Linked DNA regions of Homo sapiens: regions 2, 3 and 4 are each linked to region 1. Evidence: fine-mapped expression QTL. A gene starts in region 1. Each other region holds a variant in brackets. All regions are shown on one strand. Distances are from middle to middle. Region 1 holds the start of TMEM44 (transmembrane protein 44). Region 2 overlaps LSG1 (large 60S subunit nuclear export GTPase 1). Region 3 overlaps TMEM44 (transmembrane protein 44). Region 4 overlaps LOC124909474.

The links.
Region 2: its variant is fine-mapped to the expression of TMEM44 in whole blood (INTERVAL, PIP above 0.99).
Region 3: its variant is fine-mapped to the expression of TMEM44 in spleen (GTEx, PIP 0.98).
Region 4: its variant is fine-mapped to the expression of TMEM44 in spleen (GTEx, PIP above 0.99).

What each region holds. Positions count from the first base shown.
Region 1 is chr3:194,628,361-194,636,454 of GRCh38, reverse strand. It overlaps TMEM44 (transmembrane protein 44), which reads left to right and starts at 3,036. Exons shown (of 10, transcript NM_001011655.3): 1 at 3,036-3,376; 2 at 7,946-8,072. The coding sequence starts at 3,240. It overlaps TMEM44-AS2 (TMEM44 antisense RNA 2), which reads right to left and starts at 3,527. Exons shown (of 2, transcript NR_186047.1): 1 at 3,288-3,527. RefSeq lists an enhancer at 1-287 and a silencer at 2,838-3,267.
Region 2 is chr3:194,658,083-194,666,185 of GRCh38, reverse strand. It overlaps LSG1 (large 60S subunit nuclear export GTPase 1), which reads left to right. Exons shown (of 14, transcript NM_018385.3): 5 at 543-629; 6 at 6,053-6,113; 7 at 7,053-7,229. Among named protein-coding and RNA genes, the nearest start is that of LSG1, 10 kb to the left of the region's middle. RefSeq lists a silencer at 4,600-4,800. The variant G/A (reference allele first, on the strand shown) is at 4,683.
Region 3 is chr3:194,586,338-194,594,420 of GRCh38, reverse strand. It overlaps TMEM44 (transmembrane protein 44), which reads left to right. Exons shown (of 10, transcript NM_001011655.3): 10 at 5,782-6,743. The coding sequence ends at 5,892. It overlaps TMEM44-AS1 (TMEM44 antisense RNA 1), which reads right to left. Exons shown (of 3, transcript NR_047575.1): 2 at 5,279-5,396; 3 at 3,589-4,566. Among named protein-coding and RNA genes, the nearest start is that of TMEM44-AS1, 6.1 kb to the right of the region's middle. RefSeq lists an enhancer at 4,534-5,733. The variant A/G (reference allele first, on the strand shown) is at 3,011.
Region 4 is chr3:194,675,326-194,683,428 of GRCh38, reverse strand. It overlaps LOC124909474, which reads left to right. Exons shown (of 3, transcript XM_047449428.1): 3 at 7,593-8,103. The coding sequence ends at 7,786. Among named protein-coding and RNA genes, the nearest start is that of FAM43A, 6.5 kb to the left of the region's middle. RefSeq lists enhancers at 502-551, 7,733-8,103. The variant T/C (reference allele first, on the strand shown) is at 3,346.

The DNA of each region.
Region 1 (8,094 bases):
CAATGCCTGTCTTAGTCTATTTGAGCTACTATAACAAAATGCTTTGGACTGAGTGGCGTGTAAATAACACAGATTTGTTTTTCACAGTTGTGGAAGCTAGGAAGTCCGAGATCAAGGTGCCTGCAGATTTAGTTGAAGGGCCTGCTTTCTGGTTCCTAAAGGCGCCACCTAATATAGTTTGGTGCAAAAGTAATTGCGGTTTTGGCCATTAAATGTAAGCCACTTTTAATGGCCAAAAAAAGTGGCTTACTCTTAATGGCCAAAACCGCAATTACTTTTGCACCAAAGCTTACTTTTAATGGCCAAAACTGCAATTACTTTTGTACCAAAGTACTTTTATCTGGCTTTTTTTGTTTTGTTTTGTTTTGTTTGTTTGTTTGAGACAGAGTCTTGCTCTGTTGCCCAGGCTGGAGTGCAGTGGCGTGATCTCGGCTCACTGCAACCTCTGCCTCCCAGGTTCAAGAGATTCTCCTGCCTCCGCCTCCCAAGTAGCTGGGATTACAGGTGCCTGCCACCACACCCAGCTAATTTTTGTATTTTTAGTAGAGACAGGGTTTCACCATGTTGGCCAGGCTGGTCCGGAACTCCTGACCTCAAGTGATCCACCCGCCTCAGCCTCCCAAAGTGCTGTGATTACAGGCGTGAGCTACCGCTTCCAGTACTTTTAATAGCCAAAACCACAATTACTTTTGCACCAATCTAATACCATCAAATTAGTGATTAGATTTCATTTCTCCTGAGAGGTTATAACTTTGTTTTGTTTTGAGAGACCGGGGTCTCCCTATGTTGTCTAGGCTGGTCTCCAACTCCTGGGCTCCACTGATCCTCCCACCTTGGCCTCCCAGAGTGCTGGGATTACAGGCATGAGCCACCTTACCAAGCCAAATCATAACTTTGAAAACACAGTGAACCACTAAAATAGTGTAGCCACTTTGGAAAATAGTCTGGCAATTCCTCAAAACATTAAACACAGTTACCACAGATCCCAGCAAGGACACTCCTAGGTATATACCCAAGAGAGCATGAAACCTGTGTCCACACAAAAACTTGTGCACAAATGTTCAGAGCAGCATTATTCATAATAGCCCAAAGGTGAAAGCAATCCAAACATCCCACTAATGAGTGGATAAACGAAATGTGGTATAAAAATACCCATACCATGTATTATGATGAGCCATAAACAGGAATGAAGTACTGATAACACGCAGCAACATGAATGAACCTTGAAAACATGCTAAGTGAAAGTCACAGAAAGGTCATATAGTGGATGATTCCATTGATGTGGAATGTCCAAAATGGGCAAATCCATAGAGACAGAAGGTAGATTTGCGATTCCTGGGCTGCGAGTGTTGAGGGGAGTGGACAGTAACTGCCAGTGGGCCGGGTTCTTTTCAGATGGGGGTGATGAAAATGTTCTAAAAGTAGACAGTGATGTTGGTTGCACAACGCTATGGATACACTAAAAACTGCTGAATTGTACATTTTATTTTTTGTTTTGTTTTGAGATGGAGTCTTGCTCTGTCGCCCAGGCTGGAGTGCAGTGGCGCCATCTCAGCTCACAGCAATCTCCGCCTCCCAGGTTCAAGCAGTTCTCCTGCCTCAGTCTCCCGAGTAGCTGGGATTACAGGCGCCTGCCATCATGCCTGGCTAATTTTTGTGTTTTTAGTAGAGATGGGGTTTCACCATGTTGGCCAGGGTGGTCTCAAACTCCTGACCTCAAGTGATCCACCTGCCTCGGCCTCCCAAAGTGCTGGGATTACAGGCGCGCACCACCATGCCCGGCTAATTTTTGTATTTTTAGTAGAGACAGTGTTTCACCATGTTGGCCAGGCCGGTCTTGAGCTCCTGACCTCAAGTGATCCGCCTGCCTCAGCCTCCCAAAGTGCAGGGACTACAGTTGTGAGCCACCGTGCCTGGCCAGAATTGTACATTTTAAAAGTACTATGTAGGCTGGATGTGGTGGCTCACACCTGTAATCCCAGCACTTTAAGAGGCTGAGGAGGGCAGATCACGAGGTCAGGAGTTTAAGACCAGCCTGGCCAACATGGTGAAACACCGTCTCTACTAAAAATACAAAAATTACTCGGGTGTGGTGGCGGGCACCTGTAGTCCCAGCTACTTGGGAGGCGGAGGCAGGAGAATTGCTTGAACCTGGGAGGCGGAGGCTGCAGGGAGCTGAGATCGCACCATTGCATTCCAGCCTGGGCAACAGAGTGAGACTCTGTCTCAAAAAAAAAAAAAAAAAAAAAGACTATGCTTATGGCATATAAATAATATCTAAATAAAGCTGTAGTTTTTGAAAATTAAAAAAGATTTTTTTTCTTTTTTTCAATCCTGCTCCTTCTATAGAAATATTGTTTTCAAGTCATGTCTTGCTTTAAACAAACCTACTAAAATCAATAAGGAGATTTAAAAATTACAATAATAGTTTACTCTCAAGAAAAACAGCCCTGTGTACTTGAACTGTGCGGTGTGTGGCTGGACAGGAGGCGGCCGGTTGCAGAGATAACCAGCTCTTGGCTGCGGGGCCGTGGGCTAGGATGACATCCAGGAGCAGGGCTTGGGCGACTGCCTGGGGGCGGAGGGTGCCGTTGGCAGCTTCAGAAAGGAGAGTGAGAGGCAGATGTGGGGGTATTTGTTCTCCGGCACGTTTGTTTCCTCCTTCCTGGTCTTGCACCCCACCCTTTTTACTGCGCCCTGTCGGCGATCAGGACCACGCCCCCTTCACCTCGGGATCCCAGCACCCATGCGCTTCAGCAGCGCAACTAATTGCTGTTGGCTCAGGAAATGTGGACAATACGCAGGAAGGGACGCCGTGCCTTACAGCGACCGGCAGGGACTCGGCCGTCCGCGAGCCCAGCCGCCCGCCCCGCTCCGGCCAGGATGTTGGAGGTGGGTGACCGCGAAGAGGTCGGCGGGGGGCGGGGGCCGCAGTCTTTGTGCGCGCGCAGCTCCCGGCTCCCGCCGCTGGGGGGCGGCCTCCGCCCTGCCGACCCCCGACAATAGCGCGAGGGGTGGGGAGCGCGCGGTCCCGGAAACTTTTCCCCGGCGCCTTCGCCGCCGCCGCCCGCGCCCGGGAGCGCGCCCTTCTCTGCCCGCGGTCGGTGCGCTCGGCCGGAGGCGCCGCGGCGGAACGGAACCCAGAGAAGGGCACGCGGGGCGGCGGCGCTCGGGGCTTGCCCGCGGCGAGGGAGGCTGCGCCCAGGTCCCCGGCCCCGCGCCGCGCGCCCAGCCGCGCCATGGGGGAGGCGCCCAGCCCCGCGCCCGCGCTCTGGGACTGGGACTACCTGGACCGCTGCTTCGCCCGCCACCGCGTCTGCATCTCCTTCGGCCTGTGGATCTGCGCCTCCTCCTGCTGGATCGCCGCCCACGCGCTGTAATGGGGCCACGGGTCGGGGGGCTGTCGGGCGGGGAAACGGGCGCCAATCCCCTGCTGCTCCCTCTCGGAAACCTAGAGGAGGGGGCGGAAAGGGGGATGAAGGAGATGGCTCAGTAATAGGATCCAATGGAACATTGCTCTGTAGACTGAAGTGGGATCTTCTTTCCGGATCCCACGCACAGGGAAGCTGGGCTGTGAGCCAAAGGGAGGAGGCTGGGTGGTGCAGCGGATGGGGCCCCGAGGACACCGCGAGCCCTGGGTGCTATTGTCAGCCCTTCGCCATTGACTCGCAGTGTGACCTGGGCAAGCTCCAGAACCTCTCTGGGCCTCCTATGACCGGAGATAATACCTCATAGGATGATGGGAGGATTCGATGAATCAGTACCGTTAAAGCACTTAGTAAATGCTCATTAAACATCATTTGTATTGCTCCAGCTAGGCCACCAACTCTTAGGACCTTGGCAAGTCCCTTGATGTTTCTGGCCTCAGTTTACCCAAAGTCCTCTTAGGTGGGAAGGGAGGTAGTGATATGATCCAGCTGGCCTGTCTTTGCCCTGGTCTGTCCAGCACCTGGACTGGTTTGTCCAGATGCCCACGGTAGCCTAAGTTCTAAGAGTGAATCTCCAGGTCCTCAGCCGCTCTGTCCTAGGCATGGAAATCCACTAGCAGTGCTCAGGATGGTGCCGCCCAAGCATTCCCTGGCAGGGGAGAAAGGACCAGCACCCCTGGGAGAGGTTAGAACTGTCTCCCTGTAGGCACTCAGTGGATATTCTCCTAAGGCGTTTGGTCGTATTGCAGAGATTCTGCAGCCCCACTACCCAGTACTGCAATACAAATAAAAAGACGCCTAGAACATTTACTGTAGGCCCAGTGTTGCATTCATTAACTCATTCAATGCCTGCCACTCACAATATCAGCACCAGGAGGTAGGTGCTGTTACCCCCACTTTCTGTAGGGAACCCTGAGGTTCTGAGAGGTTAAATAACTTGTCTGAGTGAAAGGAAAGAACCAAAACCCCAGATCCTATTGGAAAGGGGCAGGCTGGTAAGAGAGATTAAACTGTTCAGATCAGAGGCTGGAAACTAACAAGGCGCTGGACACGCATTATCCTTTTGTTCCTCACAGTTGTCCTCAGACCAGCACTGTTAGGCACTTTGCCAACCTTGGAGGGGTTAAGAGTGAGCCTCTGCTTCTCACCCTGCCTGGGATCTGGACATACCCATTTGTTTTCAGGGCCTTGCCATCCCTGAACCTCCCCTGCTCCCCTTTCTCTTAGAAGAATGTGTCTTCGGAGTGGTGTGTGGGCTGGGTTAAGGTCAGCTGGCACCCTGGCCCCAAGAGCTGGGGAAGTGGCTGAGAACAACAGGGTACGGAGCAAAGCCCCCGCGTGTGAAGCCAGAAGACCACCATTAACTCACCTTCTCACCAGAGGCCTCAGTTTTGTCCTCTCAAATGGGAGGGTTGATATAAATTATTTCTAATTGGGGTCCGCCTCTGGGAGTCTCCAATTTAAGAATCTCCACTCCTTGGTCTTCAATTGGTTTTAGGAGCCCAGGGCCCAGACTGAAGTTGATGTTGCCACTGTGAGCTTCAGGCTTGGGCCAGCAGGTCAGGAAATGTTTAGAAAGCCAAGAGCCCTCTGTACTCATCCACCATTCCCAAGGACAGGCGCTCAGAATCAGCTAAATCGTCCTAAGGATGTGGAATGAGCACCACCCTCTGCTGAGTGGAAATGAAGCCAGCGCTGCCACCCTGTCTCGGTGTCTCCAGAGAAATGTAGCAAGGAGGCAGGTACGACAATGTATTTCAGAGGCCCTATCAGTGACGCCGATAGAAACAGCCAGCCCCTTCGGAAGGCAGGTACGACAACATATTTCAGAGGCCCTATCAGTGACGCTGAGGGAAACAGCCAGCCCCTTCGGGAGGCAGGTATGACAACGTATTTCAGAGGCCCTATCGGTGACGCCAATAGAAACAGCCAGCCCCTTCGGGAGGCACGTGCGACAACGTATTATTTCAGAGGCCCTATCAGTGATGCCGACGGAAACAGCCAGCCCCTTCGGGAGGCAGGTACAACAGCGTATTATTTCAGAGGCCCTATCAGTGATGCCGACGGAAACAGCCAGCCCCTCCAGGAGGCATGTGCGACAACGTATTTCAGAGGCCCCATCAGTGACGCTGACGGAAACAGCCAGCCCCTTCGGGAGGCAGGTACGACAGCGTATTATTTCAGAGGCCCTATCAGTGATGCCGACGGAAACAGCCAGCCCCTCCAGGAGGCACGTGCGACAACGTATTTCAGAGGCCCCATCAGTGACGCCGACGGAAACAGCCAGCCCCTTCGGGAGGCAGGTACGACAGCGTATCATTTCAGGGGCCCTATCAGTGACGCCGATGGAAACAGCCAGCCCCTTCTGGAGGCAGGTACGACAGCATACTATTTCAGGGGCCCTATCAGTGACGCCGATGGAAACAGCCAGCCCCTTCGGGAGGCAGGTACGACAGCGTATCATTTCAGGGGCCCTATCAGTGACGCCGATGGAAACAGCCAGCCCCTTCTGGAGGCAGGTACGACAGCATACTATTTCAGGGGCCCTATCAGTGACGCCGATGGAAACAGCCAGCCCCTTCGGGAGGCAGTACGACAGCGTATTATTTCAGGGGCCCTATCAGTGATGCCGACGGAAACAGCCAGCCCCTTCGGGAGGCAGGTACGACAGCGTATCATTTCAGGGGCCCTATCAGTGACGCCGATGGAAACAGCCAGCCCCTTCTGGAGGCAGGTACGACAGCATACTATTTCAGGGGCCCTATCAGTGACGCCGATGGAAACAGCCAGCCCCTTCGGGAGGCAGTACGACAGCGTATTATTTCAGGGGCCCTATCAGTGACGCCGATGGAAACAGCCAGCCCCTTCGGGAAGCAGGTACGACAGCGTATTATTTCAGGGGCCCTATCAGTGACGCCGATGGAAACAGCCAGCCCCTTCGGGAGGCAGGTACGACAGCGTATTATTTCAGGGACCCTATCAGTGACGCCGATGGAAACAGCCAGCCCCTTCTGGAGGCAGGTACGACAGCATACTATTTCAGGGGCCCTATCAGTGACGCCGATGGAAACAGCCAGCCCCTTCGGGAGGCAGTACGACAGCGTATTATTTCAGGGGCCCTATCAGTGACGCCGATGGAAACAGCCAGCCCCTTCGGGAGGCAGGTACGACAGCGTATTATTTCAGGGGCCCTATCAGTGACGCCGATGGAAACAGCCAGCCCCTCCGGGAGGCAGGTACGACAGCGTATTATTTCAGGGGCCCTATCAGTGACGCCGATGGAAACAGCCAGCCCCTCCGGGAGGCAGGTACGACAGCGTATTATTTCAGGGGCCCTGTCAGTGACGCCGATGGAAACAGCCAGCCCCTTCGGGAGGCAGGTACGACAACGTGTTTCAGAGGCCCTATCAGGGACGCCGATAGAAACAGCCAGCCCCTTCAGGAGGCATGTACGACAATGTATTTCAGAGGCCCTATCAGTGACGCCGATAGATACAGCCAGCCCCTTCGGGAGGCATGTACAACAACGTATTTCAGAGGCCCTATCAGTGACGCTGATAGAAACAGCCAGCCCCTTCCTGCCCTTCCGTGCATCTTCTCCAGTGGATATGGACTGGGGAGGGGCTGTAAGGGGAGAAGTGGCTGTGGGGGCGCTGAGGGAGGGACAGCTCCAAGTGCCAAAAGGGCTCTGTGTTTAAAGAACATGGACACAGGCCAGCAGAAGCCAGGCTGCCCCACTTCACAGATGGTTTAGAAGAATTTCGTTTGAATTTATTTCAGAGAAACAAGTTGTCTTTTTAATTCAGGCAATTAACTGTGCTCTGCAGTTATCTGCAGTGGTTGGGTTGCTTTTTTTTTTTTTTGAGACGGAGTCTCGCTTTGTCACCCAGGCTGGAGTGCAATGGTGTGATCTTGGCTCACTGCAACCTCTGCCTCCTGGGTTCAAGCAATTCTCTTGCCTCAGCCTCCGGAGTAGCTGGGATTACAGGCGCACGCCACCACACCCGGCTAATTTTTGTATTTTTAGTAGGGGCGGGGTTTCACCATGTTGGCCAGGATGGTCTCGAACTCCTGACCTCAGAGGATCCTCCTGCCTCGGCCTCCCAAACTGCTGGGATTACAGGTGTGAGCCACCATACCCAGCCTGAGTTACTTTTATAACCCTCCTGTTTCCTTTTCAAAAAATAAAACCCGATGGCTGCTTTTTCAGTGCTAGGTGGGGGGTCATCAAATGGAGCCGTCCTGATTTGGAGTCGGAAAGTAAAATTCCTCTTCCTCCAAAGAGGCGGTGTCTTCACATCTCACGAGGTCTAGCTCCTGCCATGGGCATCTGGACAGGCGGCTCTGGAGTCTTCTGATTGGTTCCCATCTGTAAACTCAGTTCAAAAACACGTCCTAAATACCTCGGGCAGAAAGAGCTCCCTGACGATGCGGGGTCACAGTTGCCCTTTTTAGATACATGCGTTTGGGTCCAAACTCACAGTTGCTGTGTTCTGTCCACACCCCTGTCACCCCAGGCTTCTCTATCTGAGATGTGCACAGAAACCCAGACAGGACCAGTCGGCACTGTGTGCTGCGTGCTGCCTCCTGACCAGTCTGTGTGACACCGTCGGGGCTCTTCTGGCCAGACAGCTCACAATCCAGGTATGTTGGGCCTCCAGCTGAC
Region 2 (8,103 bases), 30 kb before region 1:
TATGAAGACTTACTTTGAAATCCTGAGTTCAGATATTTGGCATGCTTACACAGCCATTTGTGTTTTGAAGTTTTGATTCTTTTAAGAAGGAAATGGTAGCATTCTGCTAACAAGTGCAAATAGATGTATGCACAAACAAGATTGCTAGGTGCAAATGCATCCTTGCACAGAGATCGTGAGTTGGTTACTCTGCTCAGTTCCGGGCCTTTTCCTTTCATTCCCTTCTTTGGCCATTGGGCATCCTGGAGTTGATCGCTGCTCTCCTGCACATTTTTCCAGTAAGAGTGTGGGAAAGAAATGACTTTGTGTGATAGGTAAACTTCCAGGGCATAAATAGCTTCAGGATAAAATTTGAATTTGGTGGAGTATTGTCTAAATAAATAGTATTTTTATGGTGTCTCAGCAGGAAATATATAAAATAATTTGACTCTGGATATTTGTGCCCAGTACTTATTTTTAATGTAATAAATTTGAGCATTTACACTGCTAAAAATTGTCTATTATAATCTGGCAAATATATAAACTTCTCATTCAAAAACTAGGCTAGAAGAGGAACAGAAGCTGATATTGACTCCATTTGAACGAAATTTGGACTTTTGGCGCCAGCTCTGGAGAGTCATTGAGAGAAGGTGAATTATCATTTTCTTTTGTGTAATAAAGACATTGTAGTGAAGTTATATTCGATTTGGCTGTTGATATAGGCTTATAGGCTCAGGGTATGGGAATTAAGCTATGCAGAGGGTTACTGAGAATTATAAAAACACAGCATGATACTACCGTATATTTTGTATAGTTTTTTTGTTGTTAGATGAATATGTTGATAAGTGTGTGAGAATAATGAACATTTTCTGCAAGGTGAATTCTGAAGCACCTATATAGATATTTTAGCAAATGTATATTTGGTTTCTACTGGTAATGTGGAAAATATGGATACGAAAAAGAGTTAAGTTCCTGCCTGCAAAGAGCATCTATGTTATGGGGAGAGGCGAATGTCAGAGCTCCTGTCAGCCGAGTTACACCATGTTCAGCTAAATGCTAAGCAAAGCACCAGGCACCAGGGACACACAGATGAATGACATGCAATTCTTGCACTCAGAAAACTTAATACGTAGTGAAATACAGAGGGCAGTATGATTCCTGCTTTGCTGCAGATAGAAAGGCAGTGGGCTGAGTCATAGCAGAGGAAGGAGTGGTTGATAAGTATTGAGGAAATCACGGGGTGGTTTTTATGTTTTTTATTTATTTATTTATTTATTTATTTATTTGAGACGGAGTTTTGCTCTTATTGCCCAGGCTGGAGTGCAATGGCACGATCTCAGCTCACCACAACCTCCGCCTCCTGGGTTCAAGCAGTGCTCCCGCCTCAGCCTCCCAAGTGGCTGAGATTACAGGCGCACACCACCACGCCCAGCTAATTTTTTTTTTTGTATTTTTAGTAGAGACAGGGTTTCACCATGTTGGTCAGGCTGGTCTCGAACTCCTGACCTCGTGATCCACCCGCCTCAGCCTCCCAAAGTGCTAGGATTACAGGCATGAGCCACCATGCCCGGCCTGGTTTTTATTTTTTTTAACTGGGCTCTGAAAAGAAGAGAATGATTTTGACAAATTGAGAATGGGAGATCTTTATTCTTTTTCATGTAATGCTAAGGAGAATTCCTGATTGTTAGAAGTTGATGAACACCTGTCTCTAATCTCACCTCTTTGGTATAGTTAAAAGGTTTCTGTTTTCCTCAAAGAGTTTCTGAATTACTTTCAAGGATGCCATAAATGAACCTTATATTTGAAATGTTTTCAACAAGGACCCTTCAGGCTGGTTTTTTTTCCTTTGAAATCTATAAAGTGAACCTAGTAAGAACACTAGGAAACAGAATGCTTTAATTGGGATTCTCAGAAAAGAATCTTATCACATTTAGCATTGTTATTAAGAAAACAGGGCCCAGCGCGGTGGCTCACACCTGTGATCCCAGCACTTTAGGAGGTCCAGGCAGGTGGATCACTTGAAGTCAGCAGTTCGATACCAGCCTGAGGAACGTGGTGAAACCCTGTCCCTACTAAAAATACAAAAATAGCCAGGCTTGGCTACTACTTGGGAAGCTGAGGCAGGAGAATCACTTGAATCCAGGAGGTGGAGGTTGCAGTGAGCCGAGATCGCACCACTGCACTCCAGCCTGGGTGACAGAGCAAGACTCTGTCTCCAAAAAAAAGAAAACAGTACTTGGACTAAACTTGTAAAAGTCACTTACATTTCCTATTAGGGTGATGACAAAGTCACTTGAATGCCCCCATCCTCAGCTCTCTACGGGTACAGAAAGGGCTCTTGGGCTGGGATGCGGGGAGGTCAGAGAAGCAAGGCAAATCTCTAAGGCAGAAGAAGGGAAAGGCTTTCTCTGAGGCAGAAGAAGGGAAAGGCTTTCTCTGAGGCGGAAGAAGGGAAAGGCTTTCTCTGAGGCGGAAGAAGGGAAAGGCTTTCTCTGAGGCGGAAGAAGGGAAAGGCTTTCTCTGAGGCGGAAGAAGGGAAAGGCTTTCTCTGAGGCGGAAGAAGGGAAAGGCTTTCTCTGAGGCGGAAGAAGGGAAAGGCTTTCTCTGAGGCGGAAGAAGGGAAAGGCTTTCTCTGAGGCGGAAGAAGGGAAAGGCTTTCTCTGAGGCGGAAGAAGGGAAAGGCTTTCTCTGAGGCGGAAGAAGGGAAAGGCTTTCTCTGAGGCGGAAGAAGGGAAAGGCTTTCTCTGAGGCGGAAGAAGGGAAAGGCTTTCTCTGAGGCGGAAGAAGGGAAAGGCTTTCTCTGAGGCGGAAGAAGGGAAAGGCTTTCTCTGAGGCGGAAGAAGGGAAAGGGTTTCTGCTGATTTGGGGTCCATGCAGGCTCCTTTTACTCAAGCTTGAGGAGGGCTTCGGAAGGCCCACAGTCATTCTCCTGGGGAACTGGGGAACTGCTGTGGAGCAGAGTAGCCTCTTCGTTGGTGCCTCCTTGGTAGTTGATGCTGTGTACTCCTGAGAATGCCCGTTTTCTAATTTCCGAAGAGAAATGGTAACAAGTGCAGAAGTACTGCAGCCCGGACCTTGAGGACAGCACCCTCCATCTTCACACTTAATTACAGTTTTTGTTTTGTTTTCAGATTTTGTCCTACTTCCTATATTATCTGTCTTTCCTCTTTGTTCCTTTTCTTTTTCTCCTGGTTTCTGACTTTTACGGAAGAGGCCTTCCTCAGGTGTCTAGTGGTGTTTATCTGTCTTTAAGAACAAAGCATTACAAAGCCGGTTGACAAGCCTGCCTGTTTAGGTGGAATTTGCCAACTGGTGAGCTTCACTGTAGGGTGCCTGGGCAGGGGTCAGTTTTATTTTGTTGGAATACCCCAAGATGTTAAGATCTGTAGGTCTTTTCCCCAGAGCCAGTCAGTTTTGTGTGTGTGTGGTTTTGTTTTGTTTTTTGAGACGGACTTTCGCTCTTGTTACCCAGGCTGGAGTGCAGTGGCGTGATCTCGGCTCACTGCAATCTCCACCTCCTGGGTTCAAGCGATTTTCCTGCCTCAGCCTCCCGAGTAGCTGGGATTACAGGCACGCGCCACCACGCCCGGCTAATTTTGTATTTTTAGTAGAGACGGGGTTTCTCCATGTTGGCCAGGCTGGTCTCGAACTCCTGACCTCAGGTGATCCACCCACTTCAGCCTCCCAAAGTGCTGGGGTTACAGGCATGAGCCACTGTGCCCAGTGCCAGTCAGTTTTTAAAAAGAAGAATGATCTCCTGCCAGGAAAGGGGCAGGAGGTGGTATAATACAAGGGTGCTGGGCACCTTCACAGTTCAGTATCTTCATAGGCTTATGCTGAATTCCCCTTTTTGCCCTATGGCAACTCTTTCCCATTTTCCCTGTGCCTGAGGTCCCAGTCCTGGAACTTGTCAAGTTCATTTTCTCCATAATAAACCCTAGCCTTCTGCTATTGGGGTGGGGAATGGGGGCTGTGTGGTGGGTTGCAGTTGCCTCACTGAATGGAACAGGGTAGCCGACCTATGAGCTCACTGTTCAGATGGATTACGGGCGCGGGCCTCGTTCTTGCCCTGGAGAGATAGAGCTGATGTTTCTAATACTGGGCTTTCTTGGGCGTCAGGGGCATGAACAGGTTTGCTTCTTGTTGGTTTGACATTTGGTTGCTGCTGTTCTTTCTCTTTATCCTAATGGGTTTCAGCCTTTGTTTTTGTAGGTTTTGAGAGGGAGCAGAGGTAACCATCTGTGTTCAGTTTAACAGGAAGCCCCTCTTACACTGTTTATGTCCCTAATAATTTCCCAAGTGAGCCTGTACATGTTGAAACTTCTAGCTTCAGCTTGGATTACAGTATTATTTGCTCTCTTATTTTTGTTATGTGATATTTCTCCTTTTTTTAAATAAGAGAACATGTTTTCTAGCTCAAGGAATATAGTTATATGAAAGTGGATCTGAATTACACAGAAATATTTATTTAAAAATGACTGCCGCCACATCTTTGAATGGGAAATATTTATTGATGTCTTCTCCACAGCAGATGTCTCCTGTTTGGTAACAGGCTGGCTAAACCATCTGCCTCTTTAATTCTAATAGTAGTTATCAGAAAAGATTAGATGTATAACATGTCCTTGAAATGCAGGAAACCGCAGAGGCACTGAGGGCGGAACACTGTCTTCCAGTCAGATAAGGCACTTCCATTGTGCTGTGTA[G/A]ACCCCTCCTGCTACATGGCTGGTGCTTTGCTCTGCATCCTCACTCAGCACATGAAGCAGCTGTCTTGAAATGTCTTTTCTTACTGCTATTTCTAAACTGATGGTTCTTCCTACATGTTCTGTATGTAAACATAATGTTTGTAGACATTGTAGTTTTAGTTGATTAGGCTTTGTCCATTTTTTTGTAATCATTTTTTCATTCACTATTAAATATCCAGTTTGAAAGTGCATTATTACCTTAAAGAAGGAAATACTAGAAGCAGCTGAACTAGAGAACTTAAAAAACAATTTGTCCAAAATTAGCAACTCTGTGAGTTTGTGTCAGAGGATTATGCTGACATTTTAACTATCCTAAAAGAAAATGCACTTTTAATTGTCAAAAGAATGTCCTAAATGGTAACCTTAATTCCTTGGAATTTAGCATATTTGCAAAGTTGCCTCAGAAAAGGCTGGTTAACAGAATAAGGATTTTGGGGAGACTCTGCCGTGAGGTAGTCATGCATCTGTAGCTTATGTCCTCCCAGCGGCAGTCACGGTGGGCCTTTATAACATCTAGCACAGAGGCTGAAGGAAGGGAGGAGCCTCCCATAGAAGGGAATTTTTTTTTCTCCTTGCAGTGCTGGACACCTGTAGTCCCCACTATATTTGTGAGGGATTTGAGGGGCTTGCCACCAGCTGCAGAAAGTTATCTTATTGCTGTACTTTCTTATACGTGATGGAAGAAGTTGGACTTGCCATTCCTGCTTCAGCCGGGCAACCTAAGTTAATACTTTCCTGTTTTCTCTTTTTGCCATTTAAACACATTGTTGGAATTGGTGGATGATTGTTTGCCAAAAATATGCTTTCTTCCTTCTTATTCCTGGGTTTAAATAAGATACTAGCTTCAATAGTGGCAGCTGTCAGCAAGTGATTTACTAGTTTTCTTTTGAGGCCTTAACATGAGGGCAGATTAGGGATTGAATATTTAGTAGACTTTGCCGTGGAGTGAAGTGTTTGGAATACTCTTTTATCTCACCAGGACAGTTTAATAGAAGTACGGTGGATGTCTTAGCAATGAAACATCATCCGAACCCCTCTAGGCTGTATGAGAGCAATAGCATGTTATGATTAAGAGCATCACCTCTGGTCCAGGCTGCCTGGGCTCCCATTCTGGCTGTGTTACTTACTAGCTGGTGGCCTTGGGCAAGTTACTTAACTGCTCTGAGCCTTAAGTCACTCATATATAAACCGGGAATAATTATACCTTAAAAAGTTAATATATGTCCAGTGCTTAATATATTGCCAGGGTTTGCTACTCTGGCCATTATTATGTGGTTAGTAAAATCCCTTTCACTTCACGGTGATTGGTCTATCTCGTGTTTGTTTTTCAGTGATATTGTGGTCCAGATAGTAGATGCTCGAAACCCACTCCTGTTTAGATGTGAGGATTTGGTAAGTCAAGTTTGACAAAATTCAAACATCAGTCCTTTGAGTAGCAGTGCCAGCACCGCATCCCTCAGCAATGACTGTAGGCATACATTCTGCCCTCTCTGGCTTCGTTTAGTGAGGCCTTCCCTCCTTCCAAGGCCAGGAGCTTGCAGAACGCCACTGTTGAGACAGATGTTTTCTCAAACAATGGTGTCCATCTGCAGGAAGGCACAGACACTTAAATGAGCTTTCTAGCTTTTAGTTTAGAAGCCACTTAAGGCATTTGCCGGTTTCCCATTTGTCAGGGAACACCAGTTGAAATAGCATTTTATTTATTTTAGCATATTGCCGGTCACTTCACTTTTTAATTCATCCCATAAGGTTCTGTCTTCTCACACTTTAGTTATGACTCCCTGTGGTATTTTACAAGTGAACTAAGTTTATGAAACACCACAGGGGCTGATAACTAACATGTGAGAGTCCCATGAAATAATGTAATACAGCTTTGGGTTAGTTAACAAAACATTGTATAATATGTGAGGTATTCATATTTCTTTTTGAGAACTGTAATACATATTATTTATTTATTTATTACTATCTTATAGATCTAATTTTTTGTAGAGACAGGATCTTGTCATGTTGCCCAGGCTGGTCTCGAACTCCTGGGCTCAAGCAATCCTCCCTCCTCCGCCTCCCAAAGTGCTGGAATTACAGGCGTGAGCCCCCATGCCTGGCCCAGATTATTTTTAAACCCACTGGTGCATAACAAAAATATTAATGGTGGAACTTCTTTTCAAAGCTTACTGAAAGGATTAGTATAATGTGTCATGATTAAAAATGTTTAAATTAGGAAATGATTTAAAACTAGGGGCAGTAAAAACTTGTATTGGGATCTTTAATATAATTAGCCTCATTTTTTTACTTGTTTGAAGAGGTCTTTCTAAATCTCTTTGTCTTGCTTAGGAATGTTATGTGAAAGAAATGGATGCCAATAAGGAGAACGTCATTCTGATCAACAAGGCAGACTTGCTGACTGCTGAGCAGCGGAGTGCCTGGGCCATGTACTTCGAAAAAGAAGATGTGAAGGTTATTTTCTGGTCAGCTTTGGCCGGAGCCATTCCCCTGAATGGTGACTCTGAGGTAACCTGAGGGACATTTTAGGTTGGCTTTCAAAGAGGGAATTTTGATTTCTTGTTAATGTGCTTCGTTTGTGTTTTGTTTATTCTTATGGAAAATCTGTGGGAATTAGAGTTTTTCCTCTGTGTGCTGGATTAGGATGACCTATAGAAAGTGAATCACAAAGTTACTTTCTCTGTGGTTGTTGGACAGTCTGACCTCTCCAGTGTTGTTACACACTGATATTAGCTGTATTTTTAAATTTTTTTAAAAGGTTGTAGACAGGAAATTGTATAGGAAGTTCCACAATGACCCTGTAACTGCTTTTAAGAGAAGTCAGAACACAAGAGTACAACTGAAGGATGTAGTCAGTTCTCAGGACTTGATTAGAATCTCTTTTGACTTTGTTTTGAAAACAGAGAAACTAAGTAACCCTAAATTAGGATATACCACATATTTTATCTTTTAGCCCAAATTTTGCAAAAGTAGTTTGGGCTTTATTTTTACTTTTGAATAAAATAATATCTATAAGAGGGCCAGGTGCCGTGGCTCACTCCTGTAATCCCAGCACTTTGGGAAGCCGAGAGGGGCAGATCACCTGAGGTCGGGAGTTCGAGACCAGCCCTACCAACATGGAGAAACCCCATCTCTACTGAAAATACAACATTAGCCGGGCATGGTGGCGGGTGCCTGTAATCCCAGCTACTCGGGAGGCTGAGGCAGGAGAATCGGCTGAACCTGGGAGGCGGAGGTTGTAGTGAACCGAGATCATGCCAGTGCACTCCAGCCTGGGCAACAAGAGCGAAACTCTGTCTCAAAATAATAATAATAACAACAGCTATGAAAAGAAATTAGTAATTAGAATCGTAGAGATGGAGAGACTTAGGAAGTACTGTCT
Region 3 (8,083 bases), 42 kb after region 1:
GAGGCTGAGGCAAGCTGATCACTTGAGGCCAGGAGTTCGAGACCAGCCTGGCCAACATGGTGAAACCCCATCTCTACTAAAAATACAAAATTAGCTGGGCATGGTCCTGGGCGCCTGTAATCCCAGCTACTCAGGAGACTGAGGCAGGAGAATTGCTTGAACCTGGGAGGCAGAGATTGCAGTGAGCCGAGATCGTACCATTACACTCCAGCCTGTGACAAGAGTGAAACTCCATCATACACAGATAGATAGATATAGATAGATAGATAGATAGATAGATAGATAGATAGATAGATAGATAGAAAATTAGGCCAGGTGCTGTGGCTCATGCCTGTAATCCCAGCATTTTGGGTGGCCAGGGTGGGAGGATTGCTTGAGCTCAGGAGTTCAAGACCAGCCTGGGCACCATAGACCTCATCTCCACTAAAAAAATAAAATAAATGTCAGCCAGGCATGGTGGTACACACCTGTAGTCCCAGCTACTCAGGAGTCTGAGGCAGGAAGATCAGTTGAGCCCAGGAGATGGAGGCAGCAGTGGGCTATGACCATGCCACTGCACTACAGCCTGGGCGACAGAGCAAGCCCCTCTCTCAAAAAAATTAATTAATTGATTTTTTTTAATGAAAAATGTTAAGGAGTTGAACATGCTTTTGTTTTAATGTGATAATAACCCTAAATCCTGTGGACTGCTCGGACTGCCTGCTATTTAATTTAATAGACATTCCCAGATCAATGTAACAGATATTCATAGATTCTTAGCTCATGTCAGAAACATATGTTTCCCAGGCGCTGCAGGAGGTGCTGGAGTAACAAGGGCAGACGTGATGCCTGCCCTGCAAGAACTTGAGTCAGACATATTTGAGGTTTGGAGTGGAACCAACCATGCAGTAAACACTGACTACAAATGAATCTTGGCTGGTAGCAAATACCCCATATTTGCAAGGCAGGAATTTTATTGGCATCTCAGTTTTATGGGTTTGAGTTGAATCATCTCAGCCATGTGGTTAATAAATGGGAGATTTATTATTATTACTGCTACTCCTCCTAATAATAATAATAATTTCTACTAATAGTAATTTTTAAATCTTGATAGATTGTAATTTTTCCCAGGACGTGCAGCCCTTCATAATTATCATAACTATCTCATTGATCATTTAACTAAATTGTAACTGCTAGTAGCTGCTGCCTTCCTGCTTGCTGAAGTCACCTGTTCCTTTGCCCCCAACCATCTAAGGGCCTGTCTCCTGGCTCACTGAGCAGACAGGAGCTGGTCCTGAGCTCTGCTCTGCTGTGGGATGGTGGCAAAATCTGTCCAACACTTTTTCTGTCTCTCTTTTTATTCTGCAGCAGAAGTATTGGGAGGCCCTAAACTCGGAGCAGGTATGGACGATCATGCTCTTTCTCTTCCAGGAGGGACTTCCTATGGCTTGATTTCAGTTCCTGTTTTTGTTAGACCTTGTTAGATGGCTAGACCCATGACAAATTCCTTCAGTAAAAAAAGAATGTCAGGCCAGGCGCGGTGGCTCACACCTGTAATCCTAGCACTTTGGGAGGCCGAGGTGGGCGATCACCTGAGGTCAGGAGTTCAAGACCAGCCTGGCCAACATGGTGAAACCCTGTCTCTACTAAAGATACAAAATTAGCCGGGCATGGTGTCACATGCCTGTAATCCCAGCTACTCAGGGGCTGAGGCAAGTGAATCGCTTGAACCTGGGAGATGAAGGTTGCAGTGAGCCGAGATTGCACCATTGCACTCCAGCCTGGGCAACAAGAGTGAAACTCCATCTCAAAAAAAAAAAAGTCAAAATGAGAGGCAAGACTGAGGATGAATGGGATTTTCAGGGCTCTCTCAGGTCAGAGTTCTTTCTGCTTTGGGGGTATTCAGGTAAGCCCAAGTAATAGGGACTCCAAGAAGACGTGTAACCCAGTGAAGAAACATGGTTTGGAACAACAGTAGTAGTGGCCGGCATGGCTGCAGTAGCTGTTGCAATAAACAGTTCCAGACATTGTCATTCTGGGACCCTGGGCAGCTGGCTGCTGTCTCCATGCCACCCTTGCCTCCAAGTGACAGGCATGTTTTGTGACAACTACCTGTGCCTGTCATCTCCCAGGATTGTTTCTGATATGAAAATGGATCTTTTGCTCAGATTCTCTTCATGCCTGGTTTCCAGCAATGATTTTTTTTTTTTTTTTTTTGAGACGGAGTCTCGCTCTGTCGCCCAGGCCGGACTGCGGACTGCAGTGGTGCGATCTCGGCTCACTGCAAGCTCCGCCTCCTGGGTTCATGCCATTCTCCTGCCTCAGCCTCCCGAGTAGCTGGGACTACAGGCGCCCGCCACCGCGCCCGGCTAATTTTTTGTATTTTTAGTAGAGACGGGGTTTCACCTTGTTAGCCAGGATGGTCTCGATCTCCTGACCTCATGATCCACCCGCCTCGGCCTCCCAAAGTGCTGGGATTACAGGCGTGAGCCACCACGCCTGGCCCAATGATTTTATTATAAAATGAAGTTTTTAGGCCGGGCACGTTGGCTCACACCTGTAATCCCAACACTTTGGAAGGCTGAGGGGGGCGGATCACCTGAGGTCAGGAGTTGGAGACCAGTCTGGCCAACGTGGCGAGATCCCCATCTCTACTAAAAATACAAAAATTAGCCAGGTGTGGTGGTGTGTACCTGTGGTCCCAGCTACTCAGGATACTAAGGCAGGAGAATCACTTGAACCCAGGAGGCAGAGGTTGCAGTGAGCCCAGATCATGCCTCCAGCCTGGGTGATGGAGTGAGACTCTGTCTCAAAATAAATAAATAAATAAATAATGAAGTTTTAAAACACATTATTCTGGAGAGTCAGAAAAAATAGATTCTAAATGTTTTCTAAGATTTGTACCACTTTATTTTTACTTACTTATTTATGTATTTATTTATTTTTTGAGACAGAATTTCACTCTTGTCGCCCACGCTGGAGTACAGTGGCGTGATCTCGGCTCACTGCAACCTCCGCCTCCGGGGTTCAA[A/G]CGATTCTCCTGCTTCAGCCTCCCAAGTGGCTGGGATTATAGGCGCCTGTCACCATGCCTGGCTAATTTTTTGTATTTTTAATAGAGATGGGGTTTCACCATGTTGGCCAGGCTGGTCTCGAACTCCTGACCTCAGGTGATCCACCCGCCTCAGCCTCCCAGAGTGTTGGGATTACAGGCGTGAGCCACCACACCCAGCCTATTTATTTATTTCTTGAGATGGAGTTTCGCTCTTGTTGCCTAGGCTGGAGTACAATCACACAGTCTCAGCTCACTGCAACCTCTGCCTCCCAGGTTCAAGCGATTCTCTTGTGTCAGCCTCCCAAGTAGCTGGGATTACGGGCGCCCACCACTATACTTGGCTAATTTTTGTATTTTTGGTAGAGACGGGGTTTCACCATGTTGGCCAGGCTGGTCTTGAACTCCTGACCTTAGGTGATCTGCCCGCCTCAGTCTCCCAAAGTGCTGAGATTACAGGCGTGAGTCCCCGTGCCCGGCCTGTACTAGTTTAAAGAGCTCACCTGATCAAAGTGACAGGTTTCTGTCTGCAGGCTGCTGAACTGGTCACGGTTGGCAAGAATCATTCTTCAGCAGCCATTTAAGAAGCTCGAGCAGTGGTTCTCAATCATCAGGGCATCTAAGAATCACCCTAGGAGCTTGTAAAAATGCCAAACCTTAGGTCTCTACCCCCTACCCAGGGGCTAGGGTGGGCCCCAGCATCAGTGTTTTTAGCCAGCAGCCTGGGTGCTTCTGGTGTGGCTGGTCAAGCACACGCTGTGAGAACAATGATCTAGGTCTCAGGCCTCAGCTTAGAAACCGTTTTCATCAAAGAGCACACTGACCATCCTCAGAGAACAGAACAGGGCCCTACTTTTTTCACTGGGCAGGTGGGTCACGTAGGCTGAGGGGCCTGGTGAGCTCTTTTATTTGGGGTCTGATAAGGTCAGAAAGGAATTTGGTTCAAGGGGTCCAGCCAGGTCTGCGACCGCAAGTTAATGCGATGTTCTCACTGGAAGTGGCTGGCACAGCCCCAAACAGGTGCAGGGGACGAGCTGCCCAAACCCAGTCACTGCAGGGTCACTGGGAATCAGGTGGTCTTTTTAACATGATGGCTTTTAAAATCGCCAAGTATTAGTACTCGATTCAGTTATTATCAGTAAATCACTAACAAACTGGGCTCTTTATTTCTGTCCAAAACAAGGCCACAATTTGTGTTTTATCACTGGGATGGCATGGCCATTGTGTCAATGGCTCAGGGAGACTTCAAGATCTTCGCTGGAACCTCTAAGGATTGGAATGTTCGATTCAGCTTCAGTGTGAGCAGCTGTCAGGGCATCTTTCTTGGAGAGCATGTCCATGCCTGGGTCTATTATCTTGTCCAAATAGATCGTCTGCCCAGGCAGACACAGCCTTTGTCATCTTTGCTTCTTGTTTCCTGGGTTTCCTAGTACTGTCAAATGTGACCTTGTGCCTCAGAATCATCATAGACGCTTGGAAATGGGAGAGATCTTCTTATCTCGTTGCTGATCCAATACCACAGCATACACATGGGGAAACTGAGGCCCCAAAAACGAAGGCAAATTAGTGACAGGAGGAGAACTGGAGCCCAATCCCTACTTGCCTCCATGGCTGGAACCTCAAAGGTAACACCAAGGATCCCCTTGGGCTCTAATCCATCATCTTAGAACAGCAGGAGGGCTTCACAGACAGCTTTGTCAATGCTTCTGTGCCCACTTGTATTAACCCGTCACTCACCCCTGCAAATTTCAACTTCCCAAACCCACCTGAGTCGGTGATGAACTATTCACTGGCAGTGCCCCCCCGCTCTGAATTGGGTTTTAAGTGATGACAAGTCGGCTGAGCCTCAGGTTTAGAGGAAACACCGTGTAGGAGCAGGAGCGAACGTTTGCTCTGTTCCCGTGGAGCCCATCATCTACCTGAGACAACAAGGCAGATGTCCGCATAAACGCCAGGGCTGTCCGTGCTCAGGGGCAAATCAGTGGAATAGGTAATACAAAGAGAAAGGCAGGTGAGAGCTCAATGGGCTAACACGGTCAAGGTAGGCTTCCTGGGGGAAGAGGTATTTACCTGGCCCATAAAGAATAGGTTGAAGCTGGGCATGGTGGCTCAAGCCTGTAAGCTGAGCACTTTGGGAGGCTGAGGCGGGAGGACTGCTTAGGTCCAGGAGTTCGAGATCAGCCTGGGCAACATTGCAAGACTTTATCTCTACTAAAAATTAAAAACTTAGCCAGGCATTGTGGTACACACCTGTAGTCCCAGCTACTCGGGAGGCTGAAGCAGGAGGATTGCTTGAGTCTAGGAGTTTGAGGCAGCAGTGAGCTATGATTGCACCACTGTACTCTAGCCTGGGTGACACCGCAAGACCCTGTCTTAAAAAAATAAAAAAGGATTAAGTTTGCCTGGTTTTTTCCAGGAATGAGTTAGGCATGGAGTCAGGATAAGGAGAACATGACTCAGTGTCACTAGATAAGGACTTGGTAGAGGCAGAGAAGAGTGGAGAATGAGGGCGGGAAGGAAAGTGAAGCTGTTATGTTTAGGGTGGTTGTTCATTAGTTGCTTGATGTAAAGTTATGCTTGCCTCCTTAGGTCCCAGAAACACAGGCCTGGGTAACTTGTCCTTACCCTTTTGTCCTTGTCTGTGCCTGGATCATGAGAACCAAGATTGGAGCTTTTGTTTGGGTCAGGGGTTATGACAGATGAGAAGCATCTATCCGTTCCACCCAGCTACCCTTTGCATCTTTTCTCCATAGTGGGACCCTGAAGATGTGAACCTCGAAGGCAGCAAAGAAAATGTGGAGCTACTGGGATCCCAGGTGCACCAGGACTCTGTGAGGACAGCACACCTGAGTGATGATGATTAACACCTTCTGGAGCCAGCTCATCAGCTCAGAGCCCAGGGTCAGGAGTTCGTTCAGTAACGCAGCGGGAATCAATCTGCACTGACACCGCGGCAGGAACTGAAGCTGCCCTGGCAAGTGAGGAACCAGGAGCCGTCACTGAGTGTGGCTGGGCTACATCATAGCTCATCACGGAGCTACGACTTTGGGTACTGCGGACAGACCTGGATAGGCCCAGCATTCGTTCTGAAGATCACAGTTCACAGAAGCTTTTGCTTCGTAAAGATAATCCAAAGGATCTCAGACCCGCTCTTCCTTTTCCCTTCATTCCCTTGAGAGTCAGCCATGAACGGAATACCTGCTAGGTTCCAGGAATGAGCTCACCTAACAGATAGCAAATGTGTCTGGTTAGATCTCAGCAGAGCCCATTCTGCAAGACCTGGCTGAGCCAGATGAGAGGGTGGGCCCTGTGCTGGGGGGCCTTGGGTCACACACAGGAACCGAGACCTGGCTTCCACCCCCCAGTCACCCACTTGGGTTATCTGCTGGAAGTTATCGATAGGACTGTGTGGCCAACCAAGTGCTTGTGAGATCACTGACACTGCAAAAACAAAGCAAACTGCTCCGGGTACCAGGACTTCCTCCAACCTGGCAAGGGTGTGCGCTGAGGCGGGGCTTGCAGGTGAGGGGGCTGTATGCTTCAGGAACTAACTAAATGCATGCAGAAGGTAAGAGGCATGATGGGAGGTGTTCAAGCACAGCAATCCCATTTGGGAGTTATTTTGATACTGCGATGAGTAAGGGTAAGGGCGCATGGAATGGGGCTAAGGTGGGAGTGAACACTGGGGTGAATAAATTTTAAATCAATTCAAGTATCTCACTGTGGAGTGCAATGGCGAGCATGAATCCCTGCACAGTCACAGAATGACGTCGGCCACGAGAGGAAGTGGAGAAATGCCAAGCAACACAGTTTTGCTCCGGGCTGGCCCACAGCCGCCTGCGTGACGCAGCTACAGCAGCCCAGTTTCTCCTGAGGGGTAGGGCAAGTTCCAGCAGCATGAAGGGGGTCCCTTGGGGAAGCAGCGTGGCTCTGCAGGTCTCTGCATAGATCCTAATCCCCTGGGTGACCTCTGAACTACAAGTGATCTTAAAGCCACTTTATTTATCCCCTTTAATCTGAACTGTGTTGGTCCCTGGTTGTCTTGGAAAGTTTGCTGAAGTCAGCTTTGCTTTGTGATGTTAACCACTGAAGCTGTACTTCCAGGGAAGAGGAAGATTTGAATGGAGACCCAGGATGCAGGGAGAAAAGAGTGTTCAAATAGATGAAATAGTACAGAGGACTGGATGCAGGGAAAGGTGGGAGCTAGCAAGGAAGAATCTGAGATGGCCAGAATGGATGATGTAGTATGGGCTGTAGGGGTGGCAAAAAGGCTGAAAAGGAACCAGACTGGAGGCTGGTGAGTCAGTGCTTGGTTCTGTGGCCAGCTGGTAGCCATGGAAGATACCAGAGTAGGAAGGTGACTGACTTGCCTCAGGAAGACCACAACTGATTGGTGAGTTTTTCATTCCTATGGCTACAACTTTCCAGGAAGCAGAAATATAGTCATGGGTACAGAATGAACGTGGGGAACAGGTTTAATCTAGAGTACTGAGTGGTAACAGCAGGGCAGAAGAGCTTCTCTTTAGAAAGGCGGAAGGCATGGGGATAGGATGACCTCTGGAGTTTGCCTTTAGCACATCCTCTGTCTTGAGGGAACTCTGGATCATGCTCCCTAGGGCACCAAAAATTGGTGGGATCCAGGTGAAAGTGGCCATTCACCCAAGAACATCAAATGATCTTGGCCAGGTGCAGTGGCTCACACCTGTAATCCCAGCACTTGTGGTAAGCTGCGGCAGGCAGATCACTTGAGGACAGGACTTCAAGACCAGCCTGGCCAACATGGTGAAACTCCATCTCTACTAAAAGTACAAAAAATTAGCCAAGTGTGGCGGCCCGCACCTGTAGTCCCAGCTACTCAGGAGGCTGAGGCACAAGAATTGCTTGAACCCACGGGGTGGAGGTTGCAGCGAGCTGAGATCGCACTGCTGCACTCCAGGCTGGGCAACATAACAAGACTGTCTCAAAAAACAACAAAAACCTTGCTGACTTTGAGTAACACGAACTACCTAAGGTCCAGATATCATCTATCTCCCTAGATCCTGTTAGCCCAGCCTC
Region 4 (8,103 bases), 47 kb before region 1:
ACTCCACAAAAGCAGACATCATGTTTAAGCAGTGATCATTTCCAAATCGCTCAAAGTTCCAAGGCTCAAGAGGGTTTGGGGAAGAGGAAGAGGGAGTAGTAGCAGGAGCTAAGGCTGGTCTCAGCCTCAGCGAGAGGCACCACTTTGCACTTCATGCAGTGGCATGGACCCCAGTGGCCCACAGAGGCAGGGAGGAGTCTACTGGTGGGCCGGGCTGTTCAGCAGCAGCCGGAGTGCCAGTCCCAGCGGCACAGGCCCACAGAGCTGCTCCTGTTGACGAGGCTATGTCACGCCTTGACCGCCTTCCTAATAAGCTTGTTTCCAACCTTGGGAGAACAGAAAGGTTCTAGGCCAGTGTGAACACCCTGGTGTGAGTCATGCCCTGGAGGAGAACCCGCGGTCCCCTTGTGGCCTGGACCTGTGCCAGCCTCTAGGGCCCGCCTCACCTTATGGAGAAGCTGACCACCCCACCTGAAGCACACATCACAATTAAGGCTGCGTTTCTTCAGCTGGGAGAGCTGGCAGCACCATGTGGGAGTCCACATCACAGATCTGAGACAGGGCAACTCCAGAACAGACTGTCAGCAAAGTGGAGCTGGGAAACAGGTTAGAAACTGCAGTGTACTTTTTTAATGACACTGCCCCCATCTACTGGTAGCAGGCAGAAATGCTGCTCGGTGGATGGTTTCTCGTCAAACCAGATAAGCTAGTGGTTGAAACTACACACAACCGGGTCGCAGTTGGAAGGAAATGCTGCCATCAGGAGTCCCAGCCCTAAACTTGACATCCAGGAGTAAGCCTTTCATCTCACAGAGGATTTGGACCAGCTTCCTCCCACCTTACGTCTTACATAATGCTCCTTCCTCTCGCCCCTCCTCCAACATCCTACTCAGTGGACATTGACTTCAGAGATGACACATGACGAATCTGGAATCTTCAATGTCATCTAGTAAATACTTGTGGAGAGTCTCCCATGAATGTCACATAGTTGCTGGGGATATAGCACTAAAGAGGACAGATAGAGAGGTCTTTGCCTGCATGGGATTTATAGCCTCTGGTGGAGGCAGGAGGGCAGACAGTAAACAAAAAACTAATGAAATAGCAGATAGTGAAAAGTCTCTGGAGAAAAGGAGGCAGTGCTAGGAGTGAGAGGTGGCTGGTTTAGACAGCATGGCCAGGGAAGGTGGCTCTGGGCAGAGACAGGAATGAGATGAACCTGCAAAGAGATGGGGGAGAGCATTGCAGCCTGTGCGGCCCAGTACGCAGTCACCAGCCACAGGCTGCTGCTGCCACTTGAACCATAGCTGGCCCAAATTTAGACGCACTACGAGTATGAACTACACACTGGATTTTCAGGACTTAGTAAAACAAAAAGAATGCAAAAAATCTTCATAATGTTATATTCATTATATATTGAATGATAGTATTTTGGCTATGTTGATTTAAATAAATTATTCAGATTAATTTTACCTATTTCTCTAGCCTGGTCAACATGGTGAAACCCCGTCTCTACTAAAAATACAAACATTAGCTAGGCATAGTGGTGCATGCCTATAATACCAGCTATTCGGGAGGCTGAGGCAGGAGAATCACTTGAACCTGGGAGGCAGAAGTTGCAGTGAGCCGAGATTGTGCCACTGCGCTCCTGCCTGGGCGACAGAGCGAGAGTCTGTCTCAAAAAACAACAACAACAACAAAAACTTACCTATTTCTTTTTGCTTCTTTAAGGTGGCTATCAGACACCTTGGTTTTAGCCCAGTGAGGCCCGTGTTGGGTTCTAACCTGCAGCGCTGTGAATTTGTGTTGATTTAGGCCACTACGTTCGTGGCAGTTTGTTCCAGCAGCAGTACACCTCCCATCCAGCCATCTTTTCCCTTATCCTGACTCTCTTCCCTCTCCCACTCTCCTCAACACATACGCTAAGTCCTCACTAGTTTCCCAAAGCCACTGGCTCCCCCAGAGCTCAGCAGAACTGACCGGGTGCTTCCCCCACAAAAACGAGGCAGTTAGAGCAACCTCCAGCCCCTGCCAACCTACAAAAAGCACGTCCACACCCAAGCCCACCTCCCTCCTCCAGGCTCCGAAGTCTCTCCTCCCTTCAACCTGCCCCTCTGAAAGCCACCTTCAATACTTACCAAACCACACCTCTGACCTTTTCTCTCTTCCCCTTTTAACCTTCAAAATGGCTTCCCATCAGCCACACGGTACACTCCCACTCCTCAGTATAACACATGAGAATGTTCAGGTCTGGCACCTGCCTATGTCTCCAACCTCATTCTTTTCTCCTGGACTCCTAATTTATGAACCAGCCACAGAGAATAGCCTATGCTTCTCCCCATGCTCATGAGAGTGGTTTTTCCCTTCCTGCCATGCCTTATGTGGCTCTATCTAACTGATATGACCTCCTCCTGCCATTTGTCCCGGCCAAGGCTTACTCATTCTTACAGAGCCATCTTGGATACCATTTTCTCCAGGTAAACCGCCTAGGCCTACTCATCGCCTCTCCACATGCCCTTGTGTGCATCCTTACCTCTGCACTTGCCCTGTTATAATATTGTCTTTTTTTGAGTCTTGCTGTGTTGCCCAGGCTGGAGTGCGTGATCTTGGCTCACTGCAACCTCTGCCTGCCAGGTTCAAGTGATTCTCCTGCCTCAGCCCCTTGAGTAGCTGGGATTACAGGCACCCACCACCATGCCCGGCTAATTTTTTTTTTTTTTTGAGATGGAGTCTCTGTTGCCCAGGCTGGAGTGCAACGGCACAATCTCGGCCGGCTGCAACCTCTGCCTCCTAGGTTCAAGTGATTCTCCTGCCTCAGCCTCCTGAGTAGCTGGGATTACAGGTGCGCAAAAGCGCGTCTGGCTAATTTTTGTATTTTTTAAGTAGAGACGAGGTTTCACCAAGGCCAGGCTGGTCTCGAACTCCTGACCTTGTGATCTGCCCACCTCGGCCTCCCAACATGCTGGGATTACAGGCGCGAGCCACCGTGCCTGGCCTATAGTATCGTCTTTAACTCTCTGTCTCCCCCAGTAGACTATGGGCTCCTTATGGCTGGTGACTGTATTTTATTCACTCTTTGTATCCCCAACTTCCAGCACAATGCCAGCCACCAAATTAATGTATGGCAAGTGTTTCTAGAACGAACATTAACCATGTGTTTATTTTCAAAGTCATGGGACTGTCATGAGCACAGACTGTCAGAACTGGAAGAGCGTTGTCTGGAAGGCCCTTCGAGATAATCTAGTCAACCTCCCCTGGCTTTACAAATGAGGACACTGAGGCCCTGACAGCGCAGGTGCATGGCCATACAGTAACTTAGTGGCCACACCAATATGAGGATCCATGTGG[T/C]CTGAATCTCAATCCAGGGCCCTTTCCTGTGGCTAAACGTAAAGCCAAAAGCTTCTAAACACATATATGTATGTAGAACCCACGTCCTTCGTTTGCTCCCCCTCTAGGAAGAGCTGCTTGGGGGCTCACAGGTTCATTTGATGATCTGAACAGGAGCAGAAAGCCAAACATACTTCTGTGACTTGACTGAGTGGCCACTCGCTGGGCCCCTTAATGAAAAGTGCACTTTGCTAATGGCTCTCACTGCCCCCAAAGACGTTAGAGTCAAGCATGACTGTCACAGGACTCCACCAGTGAGACGGGTCTCTGTTGTGGTCGACATCGCACTTGGGTCTCTGAGAGTCTGGTAGCCCATTTCCCATTGCAGGAGAAATAACTTGTAGTCAAACAGTGCCCAGACCAGGGCCCTCTTTAGGAAGGAAGTGGACTTCATGCTAAGCATGGAAGGAGGGGCAGATTGCTGTCAACAGAGGCAGGAGAGAGCGGTCCAGAGGAAGAAAATGGCCCATGCAGAAGGTAGTTAGTGTTGAACATCCAACAACTGGGCAAAAGGAGGGAATGCAAAAGCACTGAGCCCCTACCGCATGTCAGACACTGTGCTGAGTCAGATCCGTCCAAACATTTCATGCTCCTAAGAGTGTTGTCAGGTCTGTGCTAGTCTCTTCATTTTTCCGGGGGAAAGGACCACAGCTTGGAGGAGTTAAGAAATTTGCCCAAGATCTCCAAAGCCTGTGTTCTTTGTGTTTGGGTCAGGCCAGGGCCTGACTCCTGATGGCCCTGAATGGCAGGAGGAGGCGTCTCATAAGCTGTGGTGAGTCACTGGAGGTGCTAGAGCAGGGACATGCCACGATCAGAGCCAAGGCTCAGGTACACAAGATTGGCCAAGAAGGAATCCAGACCCCCGCCCTCCAGCCCTGACTCACCGAGGGTCCCGGAGCACGCTGCTGCCCTTCTCTGCCTATTGGGGAGCTGAGCAAATCCTCATTCATTTCTAAGATCACAAGAAAGCTGCAGGTATTTCCTGCAGCTGCCATAACAGATTACCATAAATGAGGTGGCTGAAAACAACAACAATGTATCCTCACAATTTTGGAGGTTGGGAGAAGGCAGCATCCTTCCTTGCATCTTACTGCCTTCTGATGGCTGCCTGTCATCCTTGGCGTTCCTTGTTTTTTAGACATATTGCTCCAGTCTCTGCCTCTGGCCTCTCCTTCTTTGTCTTCTGCATATGCAGCCAAATGTTTCTCTTTCTAAAACAGTAGTTACTGGATTAGGGCCCGTCTAATCCAGTATGAGTTCATCTTCACTTGATTACATCTGCAAACACCCTTTTCCAAACCTGGTACAGTGAGTGGCTCATGCCTGTAATCCCAATATTCAGGAGGCCCAGGCAGAAGGGTCATTTGAGCCCAGGAGGTTGAGACCAAGCCTGCACAACATAGTGAAACCTCATCTCAAAAAAAAAGACCTTTTTCCAAATAAAAGCACATCCACAAGTACTAGGGGTTAGGTCTCGCTCTGTTGCCCAGGCTGGAGTGCAGTGGCACTATCATAGCTCACCACAACCTCGACCTCCTGGGCTCAAGTAATCCTCCCACCTCAGCCTCCCAAAATGCTGGGATTACATACAGGCATGAGCCACCAGGCCTGATCATGTCTTTGTAAGGGACACCATTAACTCAAAACAGAAGCCATGTTTCCAACAAAGCGCGCTGAAAATAAATAAATAAATAAATATAAAAGACAAAAGATCAAAACAGAGCCCATGACAGGAAATTGCAGGAGTGAGAGAGAACCAACAGACAAGTCAGAGGTCTACGAACTCTGGAGGTCACCCTGTGACCAAAGCTCCCAGAAGTGTTCTCACCATGCCCCTTGCCTTGGAGCCTCTCCTTTCATGGGCTGCTTGCTTGGAACCTTGGACGAGGTTCGCACTTGGGTCTCTGAGAGTCTGGTAGCCCATTTCCCATTGCAGGAGAAATAACGTGTAGTCAAACAGTGCCCAGGCCAGGGCCCTCTTTAGGAAGGAAGCGGACTTCATGCTAAGCATGGAAGGATGGGCAGATTGCCGTAGACAGAGGCAGGAGAGAGCGGTCCAGAGGAAGAAAATGGTCCATGCAGAAGGTAGTTGTTCTGATGGACAACCTGCCATCAGGAGTCAGGCCCTCGCCTGACCCAAACACAAAGAACATAGGCTTTGGAGATCCAGGCAGAAATGCAAGGGCACTAGAAGGAAGCCAAGAGTGATGAAATCATGAGCCTTACAAACGAGCCTTCTCCTCAGTGCCACCAAAGGCAGGGACCAGTCAAGATGGGTTTGTCCCCTCTGAAGATGGAAGGAGGGGACATGTTACCCCTACATGATTAACTTTAAAGCAGAAACCATGGATCTTTCATTCAAACTGATTCTTTTTAACATTTCCATTTGTGTTAGTAGTATCTGTGACTAATGATGGCTGAATTTGCTAAATGTTGGTTCTCGGTACCCTCAACTATCTCATGACAATGAGGGCAAGATGTACTCTTTTTCTCATGTGACATGCTGAAGGCACCACCCTGCTTTTGCCAACCTAGGCACCATTTCTGAGACCATCACTGTTCCCTTGCGATTTCAAATACTGGGATGAGGCAAGGGATAGCATAAAAAGGAAGAGAACCTACCAGGGTCAGGAATCTGTTAAGTACCTTAGCAGTTCTTTATTCCAACACCCACTTTGAGGCTTGAACCTGACTTAGAACATCTGACACCTGATTATCTGGTTTTTGCTTGAATGCCTCTGGTGGCAGGGAGCTCACTACCTTACTAAGCTGTCCAATATGTCTTTGAGCCCCTCTGATTGTAAGAAGTTTCCAACAAATTGAACCTCAAATTATAACCCTGTGATTTCTACCCATTTGTTCTGGTTGTTCTTGCCTTGTGTCTTCTCAGAACAGTCTTCTCTCCTTTCCCTATGACAGTCCTCCACATCAATGGAAATGGTTCCCACATACCCCTGGAGCCTCCCTCCTTAGGCTAGTCTCATTTCCATCACCTTTTCCTCATACGACATAGTTGTGCGTTCCAGCACCATCCAGGTTTACATGCATATATATATTAGGATATTTACTATGGTTTACATGCATATATGTATTAGGATATTTACTATGGGGAATTAAGGAGATGGATCACTTTCAGAGACAAAACATAAAATCCTGGTGGTCAGAAGCCCTCTTAATGGAGTAAGGTCTACCTGGTGGTGTAGTTCATGGCTCCCTGACTTGAGCTCTTTAACCCTGGCTGAGTCTCTCTATTAGGCTGATCACCACTAAAGTGTAAGCTCTTCAGGGCAGGGAGTTCGTCCAGTGCTGAATCCTCAGAGTCCTGTGATGAATGAACCAATGAATGAATGAATGAATGAATGAATGAATGAATGAGTGAATGAATGAATGGATGAGTGAGTGAATGAATGAATGAGTGAATGAATGAATGGGAGAAACCTAGGACTTTCCATGTACAGATTTTAGAGTTGGTGATTATTAATTCTACTTCTAGCCTCCTTTATTTTACTTTATTTGCTTAACTTAACCCTATTGAGACTCAACTTCTACAGCTAAAAGTGCAGTAAAATAACAATACCCTTTTTCACTTGACTGTCAAGAGGGAAAAAGTAATTGCAAAGGCATCTCTGAATAAAAGACACTAGATATTCCATACATAACACGAGTTGAGAAAAAGTTCGTGGGTTCAAATACATAGGATCTTGTGGCCTGTGTCACCAAAGCAAGAGGTCTTTTACACATTTCCTTGCACAGGCAAGAAATCAATGTTTGATTGCAGGGACTCAAATTAATCATTATAATAGCCACCAATAAATGTCTGCTGACAGTAGGGTGACTATGGTTGACAATATTGTGTTGTATATTTCAAAATAACTAGAAGAGAGGATTTTGAATGTTCTTACCAGAAAGAAATGATAACTGAGGTGATGGATATGCTGAATACTCGGATTTGATTATTACACAATGTATACATGTATCAAAACCACCTCATACATACATACAATTATTATATGTCAATTTAAAAGATTTTTTAAAATCTGCTGAATTATGAAACTCGTGAGAATCCACCCATTTTCAATAGGGATAAACTGAGAATGGCAGTTAATCATAGGGAGTTTCCCTACTGATTCAATTACGCTCTACAGAGGCTGCCAGTGTCTATTTTCACAACTCTCAGTCTTATGCAAACTGTTTTAATGTCCTTGTAGAAGGAGGTGGTGTATCGTATGGGAAAGAAGGAGAGACCAGACTGCAAGCTCGCCTTGGAACAACTTTTCTGCCACCAACTCATTTTTGGCCAAAGTATGACAGGAAAAACAACAGAAACCAACCCACTCTTTCCTCTCCTTCCTCAGACAGATGTGGAGCCCAGAGGCACAACAGTGTGGACTTGGAAAGCTGAAAGCAACTCCAAAGTTTGTTGCTGGGTGTGGGTTTCAGAGCTTGTAACTACATTTGTTGAGACGCGGTAGAAATCAAGCATTATGCAACCCCATGAATAGGGAACACTCCCTGTGTCACTATTTAGAAGCTGGGTGCCAGGCTTCCAATCCCCAAATCAATGCAGCCTCCTCCAGGAGCCAGCTTTTCAGAGAATCCTGGCTTTAACGGAAGCGTTCAGCTACGTGGGGAATCGGGAGGATCTGGCCCATCTTCCAGTCACAAGCCTGGTGGGCGACAGTTTCCGCTGGCGTGAGAAAGCAGTGACAGGGGTTCGGC